Regions from separate parts of the Homo sapiens genome. Here region 2 is linked to region 1. Evidence: fine-mapped expression QTL. A gene starts in region 1. The other region holds a variant in brackets. All regions are shown on one strand. Distances are between the middles of the regions.

Region 1 (5,375 bases):
CTGAGGTGAAGGATCACTTTGAGCCCGGGAGGAGTTTCAGTCTGCAGCTGCACTGAGCTATGAAGCTGCCACTACACTCCAGCCTGGGCAACAGAACAAGACCCTGTCTCAAAAAAATAAACAAACAAAAAAACCCGAAAGAATAGAAAAGAAAAAAAAGAAAAGAAAAGAATATAGGCCAGGTGCCGTGGCTCATGCCTGTAATCCCAGCACTTTGGGAGGCCAAGGCGGGTGGATCACCTGAGGTCAGGAGTTCGACACCAGCCTGGCCAACATGGTGAAACCCCATCTCTACTAAAAATACAAAAAATTAGCCGGGCATGGTGGTGGGCGCCTGTAACCCCAGCTACTCAGGAGGCTGAAGCAGAAGAATCACTTGAACCAGGGAGGCAGAGGTTGCAGTGAGCCGAGATTGCACTGCTGCACTCCAGCCTGGACAACAAGAGTGAAATTCCATCTTAAAAAAACAAACAAAAAAGAGAATATATCTCTGTAAGAAGACAGGTGCAGGGGGTGGGAGTGGACACTGATTTTTCAAATACCTATTTAGATATAATCCGTGCTTAATGCAGGACCTAATGAGGTAAGTGAGGCCTGAGCCCACAGAATCCCTCTCAGGGAATTCGCAGTTTAGGTCAAGCCACACTTTGGTGGGCCTCTCTTCACTTTGCTCTTACCTAATCAGGGGAAATCTGATTAACATATACAACAAAGCCTCAACGGGGAATAAAAAGGTCACAAAAGGGCAGAGAAGGATTCACAGAAAAAGGAAGAGGCCTTGCCAGTTCTTGACTAGTTAATTAGGGTCAGAACCGTACTGGGGATTTCCTATACCCTAAGTTTGTTAAGTGATTACATCGGTCTGGGGAAAAGGGATCTGCTCAGAGTGATTCAGTCAACTTTCTTAGTATCGGGTGGTGAATCGCATTTCCTCTCTGCTACCCTGTATACTGACTAATGGGTGGCGTATGGGGGGTCTCCAAGAGGTGTGTTTACTCCAATTCAGAAGCTATAGGATTTCAGTAGGCCTTGGCCTGTTGGGCAATGTGAGGTTTCAATCTTTCTCTCTCAAATGAGTGGGGCTCTTATCAGTTATGAAGGGACTTCCCTTGGGACTTGTCACGACACCATACAGCAGAGATGGCAATTTGAGGGCAGTTTCTTGTTCTGCTTTGCCATCTTGGGGTGGCTCTGAAAAGCTTTCTGAACCTCCGACAAAAGAAAAATGTTCACAGGATTGATTACTACACACAATTCAGTGAAGACAACTGGGCAACCTGAATCAAATGTTGAGATGAAAGATAGGTGAGCTCTGATGACACACGTTTAAATTCTAGGTCTACAGGTAAAACTTTGTAAAGGGCCTTGCCTCAGCGACATCTGTACTGGGCCCTCCTTTGCTGAGAGCTTCTTACCCCAACCCTAGCACTCCAAGTCCCGAGAACTGCTCAATTTCATGGGAAAAAGTCTCTATAATTATATATATATGTATATATGTGTGTATATATGTATGTATATATATGTGTGCATATATATACACATACACATATTACAACAGACTGATTTTCATGAGTTGTAACTATCCTTGTAGATAAAAAACGAAACCATTCGAATAGCTTAAAAACCATGCCCACGTGGCTACTGGCATCAATATTCCACACAAGATTAAAATTACTTCCCAAGATGCACACCCTGCACTCCAGGTAATATTTCAATAACTTGATTAAAAATTTCTCAGAAGTCTATTAGAATCAGAAAACGCTCTGCGGTGTGGGTGAGGATTTTAAATTTTTGCAACGGAAACTTTTGGCTCCACGAACAGAAAAGCAAGAGCAAAAACTCAGTTAAATGCGTTCTTCCTCCATCTTTGCCTAGTCCAAAAGGAAAAAAAAAGAAACAGAAAAAAGAAAAACTGTTTGGAAGAGTAGCGTTGAGGTTTGCTTTTTACCTGTTTTTCCTCTAGAACAGCCAGGTGGATTCACATGATCCAATTTTTTAATTGTCTTCTATGTCCCACTCCGAATAACCCGGATGCCCCAGCACAATCAGAGAGATCGTTTTTTTTAAAAAAAATTTCAGCCTCCAAAGGTAGGAGGGGAGTGTTAGGGGAGAAAGTACTTTAATTAAAAATCAATAACTCGAGGTTTTTGGGATACGGTTTGCCATTTCCTAATTAAGAAATGGGTTTGACAGTCCCTTTGTACACACTGCTATGCAAACCCCAAAGGGTTGGCGGCTGTCCGGGCGATGACACTCCGGTCCCCTGCGAGACCCCGGGCCAGCCAGGCCCGTCCGCCGCCGGCCTCTGGGGTCCGTCCCCGGCTCGCGCAGACCTCTCGCTTCTCTCGGCTCTGTCTCCTGCGCTCAGCTCTGCTCGGGGCCGGCCGCCTCAGGCTCGCCGCCACCAGGTCGTTGCAAATACCTTTTCCCTCCCCGGGGCCCCAGCGCGCGGCCACCTCCCAGCCTCCCCCCCTCCCACCCTGGCAGCGGGGCCCTTTCCCGGCTCAGGAACAGCAGCAGCCCGGGCCGCGCCGGCAGGAAGCGAGGCCCATGTTGCTGCTGTTCCCTGGCGCGCCTCCCCGCCCTCCGGGGGCCGCCACGGCTCTTCCGCGCTCCCGGGCACCCCCCTCCGCGCCTGCGCTGTGCCCCACGGGGGCGGGGCTCAGATTCCTGTCAGCGGCGGCGGCGGTGGCGGCGACCGTCAGTTTTCGCTGAGGAGAAACACGAAACGGACCCTTTGGCTCTCCCCCTTCCCCTTCCCCGTCCTGAACCCCTCTCCTGGTCACCGAGAATCAGTCCCCGTGGAGTTCCCCCTCCACCTCGCCATCGTTTCCTCGGTCCTCGGCCCAGTGGAAGTCACTACCCTCGAGGAGGAGGCAGCGGCAGCCGCCCTCGCGTCGCCGCCCCCGGTTCGGTGCCCGCGGTCCCGGAGAGGAGGTGCCGCCGCCACCGCCGCTCCCCCCCTCCCGCTGCCCTCGGGCCGGGCTGGGTCGAGCTGCGATGCCCTCGGACTTCATCTCATTGCTCAGCGCGGACCTAGACCTGGAATCGCCCAAGTCCCTCTACTCGCGAGGTGAGTCAGGCTGTGGGGGGTGGGGCGTGGGGGCGGGGAGACAGGGAGACAGGGAGACAGGGCCAGGGGAGGCGAGGGGTCCCCGTCCCGCCGGGGGCGGCTGAGCCGCGACCCCCATGGCTTCTTTGGCCGGAGCGGGCAGAGGCCGAAGGGATCGGGGTGACGGTGGAGGGGGCGGGCGGAGCAGTGGCGGCCCCTCCCCCGCGGAGCCGCCGGCCGCTCGGGGCCCAGATTCCGTCGGCCCCCGGGGCTCTGCGGCACCGGTCGCTTCTAGCCGCTCTCAGCCCGTCCGGCCCCGCCAGGCTCCGCGAGCCGCCGGCCCCGGCCTCCCGGGCTCGGGGATGGCCCCAGACTGGGCCCCGCGCTGGGGCCACCGCGATCGGGGCGCCGCGTCTTCTCTTACCGGGACCCTCCTCCCCAGCAAAGTTGCCCCCAAGCGGGCGGCGTGGCCTGGAGCCGGTTCTGAGTGCAGGGTCACCATTTTCCTCCCTTTCCAGCTTGTTTTTGCGCCGTCGTTCCACCCCCTCTCCCTCCGGCCTAGTCCACTCCCTCCCCATGTTGGGACAGCCCCCCTCGACCAGGCGTTCTTCCTTTCCTCGTCATCTTCTTGCTGGAAAGGGCCCGATGGAAAGGGCCCGAATTTTCTTTTCTTTTTTTTTCTCTTCCCACCTCCGTGGCATTCTAATTACTTCTCCCTTCTCCTTTACAAAGATGGGGGTGCCCTCTCTGGATTGGTTTTATTCCTCTCCTCTCCCAGGAGGACCAGCCCAGGCACAGACGCTGTCCTTTGAGAATTTTCTCTGCTTTTCCGTTCAAGGGCTGGTTGCAGGGAGGGAGCTCAGGCAGAGACTTTTCATTTAAGAACTCTTTTGGCTAAGGCCTGCAGGGGATTCCCAGCATCTGAAATATTAGCACTGGAGCTGATCCCTACTCAGGTGAAATTCCTTTACTGGACACCACAAGAATGTGTCAGAACAGGTTCCCTGTGCAAGGGGCTTCAAAACCAAAATATTCCCACTGCGCTCTTTACGCTTTTTAAACCACCGGGAGGGGGCAAAAGACATAACTGGGTTGTTAACTATTCATTTCACCGTGTAAAAAAAAATGTAGGTGTTTCTTCTGCTTTTGGTTTGATGTATCCATCCATTTGCTTATTCCACCCCCTCCAAAAAAGGGACTTCACCTTCCTACTAGTGTATCTAAATTGTTTAAGTGAATCAGAGTGAGATGGTTTACTCTGAAAGGTGCTGGACTTTACAGACTGACCATTGATTTTGTACACAGAGTCCTACTTAGTAATTGTAGCCACTGTCTGTTGCTCCAATGACTTTAGTTGGCAGCCACCATCCTGTAGGATGTTTTTCGGGCAACATTACCTGAGGTACTTTAGAAATATTGTAGTTTTGAATGTCAAAAAAAAAAGAGACATATCAAGAGATGATTCTTAGAGCAGGGCTAATGTGTTAGAATTGAGTGCTAAAAATAGCCAAGACATTAACACCATTTGGGGAGTAATCATCAGATAATTTTCCATGAAACATATACTTTATGAAAATCTAAGTTTAGCTTCGAGACCAATGTAGAGACAATTCAGCCTCTTTTGCGGGGAATATATTCACAAATATGGGCTTTAGCGCTTAAAAATACACTGCAGTTGGCCGGGCGCAGTGGCTCACGCCTGTATTCCCAGTACTGTGGGAGGCCGAGGCAGTTGGATCACCTGAGGTCGGGAGTTTGAGACCAGCCTGACCAATTTGGAGAAACCCCGTCACCCCGTCACTACTAAAAATACAAAATTAGCCGGGCGTGGTGGTGCATGCCTGTAATCCCAGCTACTCGGGAGGCTGAGGCACGAGAACCACTTGAATCCGGGAGGCGGAGGTTGCGGTGAGCCGAGATCGCACCATTGCACTCCAGCCTGGGCAAAAAGAACGAAACTCCGTTTCAAAATGTATGTGTGTATATATATATATGTGTGTGTGTGTGTGTGTGTGTGTGTGTGTATATATATATATATATACACACACACACATTGCAGTTATATAAGAGATGTATGCTATCCTTGGCATTTTTTTCCTCATTCAGCATAAAAAGTACCTAATGCTTTTTGTGTTTTTCAGATTCTCTGAAGTTACACCCATCACAGAATTTTCATAGAGCTGGACTATTGGAAGGTCAGCAAAGTACCATTTTAAAGCATATTGTGTTAGTATGCAAAGGCTTTCTCTGAAATGGAGTTTAAATGGGAAAGTATGAAACTTTGCAAACTCACACAATGTAGTTTTCTCCTAAAGAGTCTGAT
Region 2 (5,375 bases), 120 kb before region 1:
GGTCAGGAGTTCGAGACCAGCCTGGCCAACATGGTGAAACCCCACCTCTACTAAAAAATACAAAAATTAGCTGGGTGTGGTGGCGCACACTTGTAATTCCAGCTCCTCAGGAGGCTGAGGCACGAGAACTGCCTGAACCTGGGAGGCAGAGGTTGAAGTATGCCAAGATTGCACCACTGCACTCCAGCCTGGGTGAAAGAGCGAGACTCTGTCTCAAAAAAAAAAAAAAAATTATTAAAATGGAAATTCATTCAATCTAGCCATCAGGCTAAATTTTCTCCAAAATTGTCTAGTCTTACTGTGCTAGGATATAGCTTCTTCTTTGCCAGGTAGCACATGTAATATCTCTAAAAAGCTAAGGGAACTGATTCTGGATTATTTTTATGTGTTGATTTATTTTTGTAATGCAGTTAATAACACCTTTACCTAAAATAGTGGTTTGCTTGTTTTTGCAAGCTCCTTGCTAAAGGTAGTAATTATGGACTTTAAAAACTATCCATATATACCATTCTAACAAGGGACTCTGATATGCTCAGAGTAGAGGTATCTTTCTATGGATCCTCAAATCTCCCAGGGAATTCACTATCACCAGAATATAGTCTCATGTTCCAAAGTTAGAAACAAGCATATAGTGAGAATTCATTTGGCTATGTCTTAAAATATTATTTGTTTTCCTTTTTTTGACAGAGTGACCTTAAACCTGAAAGTGGTAGCAAGGTAAGAAGTCAGCGGTTTGTCTTGTGTTTATATTTGTGTTTACTCAAGTAGGACTGCTTTTTGAAACATTTTTTCTTAACAAGAGAAGTTACAAAGTATTTACTTTTTCCCCAAGCAAAAATCCTATTTTTCTGGAATTTGGACTCAGTATCATCTCAGGAATAAAAGAATAGCTGAGTCTTGAACAGTAGGAAACATTTTGCTAATGCCTTTATACGCTTTTTTTTTTTAACTGAAACTCCAAAGCTATGCCCTGTGTGGTTTTGAAAGAAATTAGTTTATGGGTTCAGTTGTGGAAAAATATCTTACTTTTACATTATGTAGGACAAGTGATAATAATTGTTTCTGTGTTGGAAAAAAATAATTGCAAAGTTGTTTTGTTTCTTATAGGTTATCTTCTTTATCTGTAATACAGAGGCCTTTCTGTACTTATTTTCCAAATTTAATTCTTTTTTCCTGTAGGCTCAAACAGGCCCACACCCTTCCCGGTTACTTAGTAATACAGCGAAAACAAAAGACTAAGTATTTGAGTGTTTGAAAACTTTAATGTGTACTACATTGCATACCAGGAAGAAAATATGGAACCATTTTCTGCCTCCCACATGCTAGGTGGTTCATTTCCCTTATTCCCTAACAATTTTCCTTAATTTCTGTCCTTCAGATAGCTGGTACACAGCACTCTAATTTAAAGGGACAGCAGTTTAGGTGCCACCTAGAACATAGGAAAGTGATGCTGCCTCCCTTCCATTTTCCTCCTCCTTGCTGCTTGCTTCCCATTCCTCATTGAGCCGAAATTACTGAATAGGTTTGACACAGCAATTAAAGTTGGCCTAGACACAAGAATTCTATTAACTCAAGAGATTGCTTGCTTAACAGTGTCTGCCATCTGTTGCCCTGCAATCCAGAGTGTTTGTGTAAATTAACTCTTCCATGTTGCTAGACTGCTACTCTGAACTATTGAATTGTTTCTGAAAGGGGAATGAAATGGTTCTTAAAACACTTTGTAACAACTGTTGGTTGTTTGTCCTCTCCTCCTAACACATGTACTATCCATTCTTGAATCCTTAAAAAAAAAAAATTAAATAGTTCAAAACAGTATTCTGTAAAAAGTTTCTTCCTGTCTCAAGCTCTCAGTGTCTTAGTTCCCCTTCCCTGGAGGTAACCAGCCATCATTTTTTGTTGTTGCTTACTCTTAATAACTTGTGTTATTATGGTAAAATTTGAACGAAGCGTGGCCTTGATTTGTATATTGAACATGTCCAGAAAATACCACTTTCAGAGGTCAACATCTGATTCAAAGGATATAGGAGCCATAACACATTTCTGCACAGCAACTATGAGAGCATCTTTTATATTAAAACAATAGAAAAAATATGTTTGCAATTACAATGTCTAGAAGTCTACAGATTGCTTCTTGTTGCTGTTTTTCTTTCTTGGTAGTACAGTTAGGACCATTCTTAGGAATGTAGAACAATGTTCCCCAAATTCTGTTCTTGTATCACCTCAGTTGGAATCCCTTGGTATGTACATGAATATATATAGGAAATGTTTATTTCTTGGGCTTCTACTCCTACTGCTTTGGAATCTCTGGAGATAGGGTTTAGGAATTTGCAATTTAAGTAATCTAGGTGATAAGTAGGTAGCTAAGCCCAAACTTTTTGCTGAATGATATGCCCATCTTTTCATTTGAAAACTTAGGAAAATTTAATTCTCTTCTGTGGTAAGCATTGTCTGCCTTCTATAGGCCAAAGGATTAGAGATTTCTCAGCTGAATTAAAACTATTGAGCCATCCAGGTGCAGTGGCTCACGCCTGTAATCCCTACACTTTGGGAGGCTGAGATGGGAGGATGGCTTGAGCCCAGCACTTGGAGACCAGCCTGGGCAACATGGTGAGACCCTGTCTCTATTTTTTAAAAATCATAAAATTAGCTGAGCATTATAATGTGTGCCTGCAGTCCCAACTACTGGGGAGGCTGAGGCTGGAGGATAGCTTGAGCCCGGGAGTTTGAGGCTGCAGTGAGCCATGGTAACACCATTGCACTTCCATCTGGGTAACACAGCATGACCCCATCTCAAAAAAAAAAAAAAAAAAAAACCCAAAAAACTATTGAGCCTTAGATTTTTTTGTAAGAAAGATAGAAAAAGAAAGCATTTAAGCTCACCAAGTTCTATAATAATTTAGAAGTCTCCAAATGTAGTTTAGCCCCTATCTGGGTTAAAAAGTGACTAAAGGCAGTGTTTTCAATCCTGTTTTCCTCATGTCACTGTACTCAAGGGACATGTCTTCATTAAGTAGAGAGTCTGGCTATTGTGTTTCTAGTCACTCTGCTCTACTTCAGGCAGATCAGGCAAGAAAGGCCTTTTGGAACATTTTCAAGACCACCTACATAGGTTTTTATAGAGCTATATTCCAACCTGACTTCAGTTCCAGGAAGAAATTCTTGATCTCTCAGATTTATTTCTTACAGAGGTTTAAATAGG[G/C]ACTTGGTGTCTAGGATGTAGGTATCTCTCTTCTCCATACTTTATCTGGTTTAAACATTCACCATTAAGAAATGGAAATGGAGTTCATTTCATTGGTTACCTTCCTTTCTCTTGGTTCATGGTTTCTGAATCTTTATGAAGAAGTGATTTTTAAAAGTCAAATTAAAAAGTATCTTCAGCCTATGGGAGAGAGTTTTCATTTCCATTTTCCTTCTTCTCCTTCTTCTACTCCCTGTCTGAACTGCACCATCCCTACTGCCCGCCAAGAAAGAAACACTCAAAATGTTGCTATTCCAAAGTGTAAGTCAGTAACCATTCCCTAATTCTTTTAGAAAACACCTTTCATATTACTTTTATAACACAGGTAAATAATTAATGGTCACCATTGTTTTATTGTTAGATGGATAGTACCTGAGTTGAAGGCCCAGAATTAATATACTAAAAACGTAAAGACTTAAAAACTTAAAGATGTAGCAACAGATTTTTTTTTAACCCGCTTCAATCAAAAATAACTAACTAGAATTAAAAACCATTTGTCTTTGTGAATCTCTTCCTTGCTGGATTAACCCTCATGCTGAGAGCCGTCAATCTCCTACTTATATTTGACTTAACATTTTTCTGGTTTGTTTTTGGTTACGGAAACTCACCTTAGAAACAGACTCAGTGCTCTCTGTGCCAGTTTGCCTGCCTGCTTGCCTGCTCTTTAGCAAGTAACCTATAAATATTCGTGGTCTATGAATTCTCTCTTTGATGATGTATTTACTTCTTGGTTAGCTGTTTTATCACTTAATCTGCCATCAGTTCAAGAGATAAAGTGCATACAAATCGTAACCTGACTAAAAAAGTGGGCACCATTTCATTCATTTCTTCAACAGATATTATCTAGATAATAGTTCAACTGCTTTACTAGTTAAATCTTGTAGTCAAATAGGTCTAGTAATTTGACCTGTTCCCCATTACATTTTTTTTGAGTGAGTATTATAAAATGTACATGGTAAAAAAAAAATTTAAATAGTTCAAAACAGTATACTATAAAAAAAGTTGGCCGGGGGCGGTGACTCACGCCTGTAATCCCAGCATTTTGGGAGGCTGAGGCGGGCGGATCACGAGGTCAGGAGATAGAGCCCATCCTGGCTAACATGGTGAAACCCCGTCTCTACTAAAAATACAAAAAATTAGCCGGCCGTGGCGGCGGGCAACTGTAGTCCCAGCTACTCGGGGCAGGAGAATGGCGTGAACCTAGGAGGTGGAGCTTGCAGTGAGCAGAGATCGCGCCACTGCACTCCAGCCTGGGCGACAAAGCGAGACGCCGTCTCAAAAAAAAAAAAAAAAAAAAATTCCCTCGTATATCCAGCTCTGAGACTTTTAGTTCCCCTTCCCTGGAGGTAACCAGCCATCATTTTTTTGTTGTTGTTTACTCTTCCAAAGATTCCATGCATTCATAAGGATGGATGGATGGATAGACAGACAAACCAACCATCATTTCCTTTAAAAAAGTAAAAAGCTGGCCGGGCGCGGTGGCTCAAGCCTGTAATCCCAGCATTTGGGGAGGCCCAAAATTTGAGTAGTCCCAGGTACTCGGGAGGCTGAGGCAGGAGAATGGCGTGAACCCGGGAGGTGGAGCTTGCAGTGAGCTGAGATCGCGCCACTGCACTCCAGCCTGGGCGACAGAGCGAGACTCCGCCTCAAAAAAAAAAAAAAAAAAAAAGGTAAAAAGCCTCATACATACTATTCTTCACCTTGCTTCTCTTTACTTAAAAATTTTATTTGTTGGCTGCACACTGTGGCTCACGACTGTAGTCCCAGCACTTTGGGAGGCTGAGGTGGACGGATCACACGAGGCCAGGAGTTCGAGACCAGCCCGGCCAACATGGCGAAACCCCGTTTCTACTAAAAATACAAAAATTAGCTGGGAATGGTGGTGTCCCAGCTACATGGGAGGATGAGGCGGTAGAATGGCTTGAACCTGGGAGGCACAGGTTGCAGTGAGCCAAGATTGTGCCAGTGCACTCTAGTCTGGGTGACAGAACGAGACCCTGTCTCAAAAAAAATTTTTTTTTTATTCATCATTATTTCTTGTCAGTTTATTAACATCTTTTGGGCTGGGGGCGGTGGCTCACGCTTGTAATCCGAGCACTTTGGGAGGCCCAGCTGGGTGGATCACGAGGTCAAGACC

The links. PIP is the estimated chance that this variant, and not a neighbour inherited with it, causes the effect. A credible set is the group of variants that fine-mapping cannot tell apart.
Region 2: its variant is the best candidate, but not a certain one, in a credible set for the expression of NFAT5 in whole blood (GTEx, PIP 0.51).

The regions. Positions count from the first base shown.
Region 1 is chr16:69,563,302-69,568,676 of GRCh38, forward strand. NFAT5 (nuclear factor of activated T cells 5) reads left to right here and starts at 2,665. Exons shown (of 15, transcript NM_138713.4): 1 at 2,665-3,073; 2 at 5,194-5,247. The coding sequence starts at 3,001. MIR1538 (microRNA 1538) reads right to left here and starts at 2,567; the gene lies at 2,507-2,567. RefSeq lists enhancers at 733-1,629, 1,032-1,171 and silencers at 2,291-2,670, 2,390-2,566, 2,861-3,130, 3,151-3,460.
Region 2 is chr16:69,447,428-69,452,802 of GRCh38, forward strand. CYB5B (cytochrome b5 type B) reads left to right here. Exons shown (of 5, transcript NM_030579.3): 3 at 688-717. Among named protein-coding and RNA genes, the nearest start is that of CYB5B, 25 kb to the left of the region's middle. The variant G/C (reference allele first, on the strand shown) is at 3,200.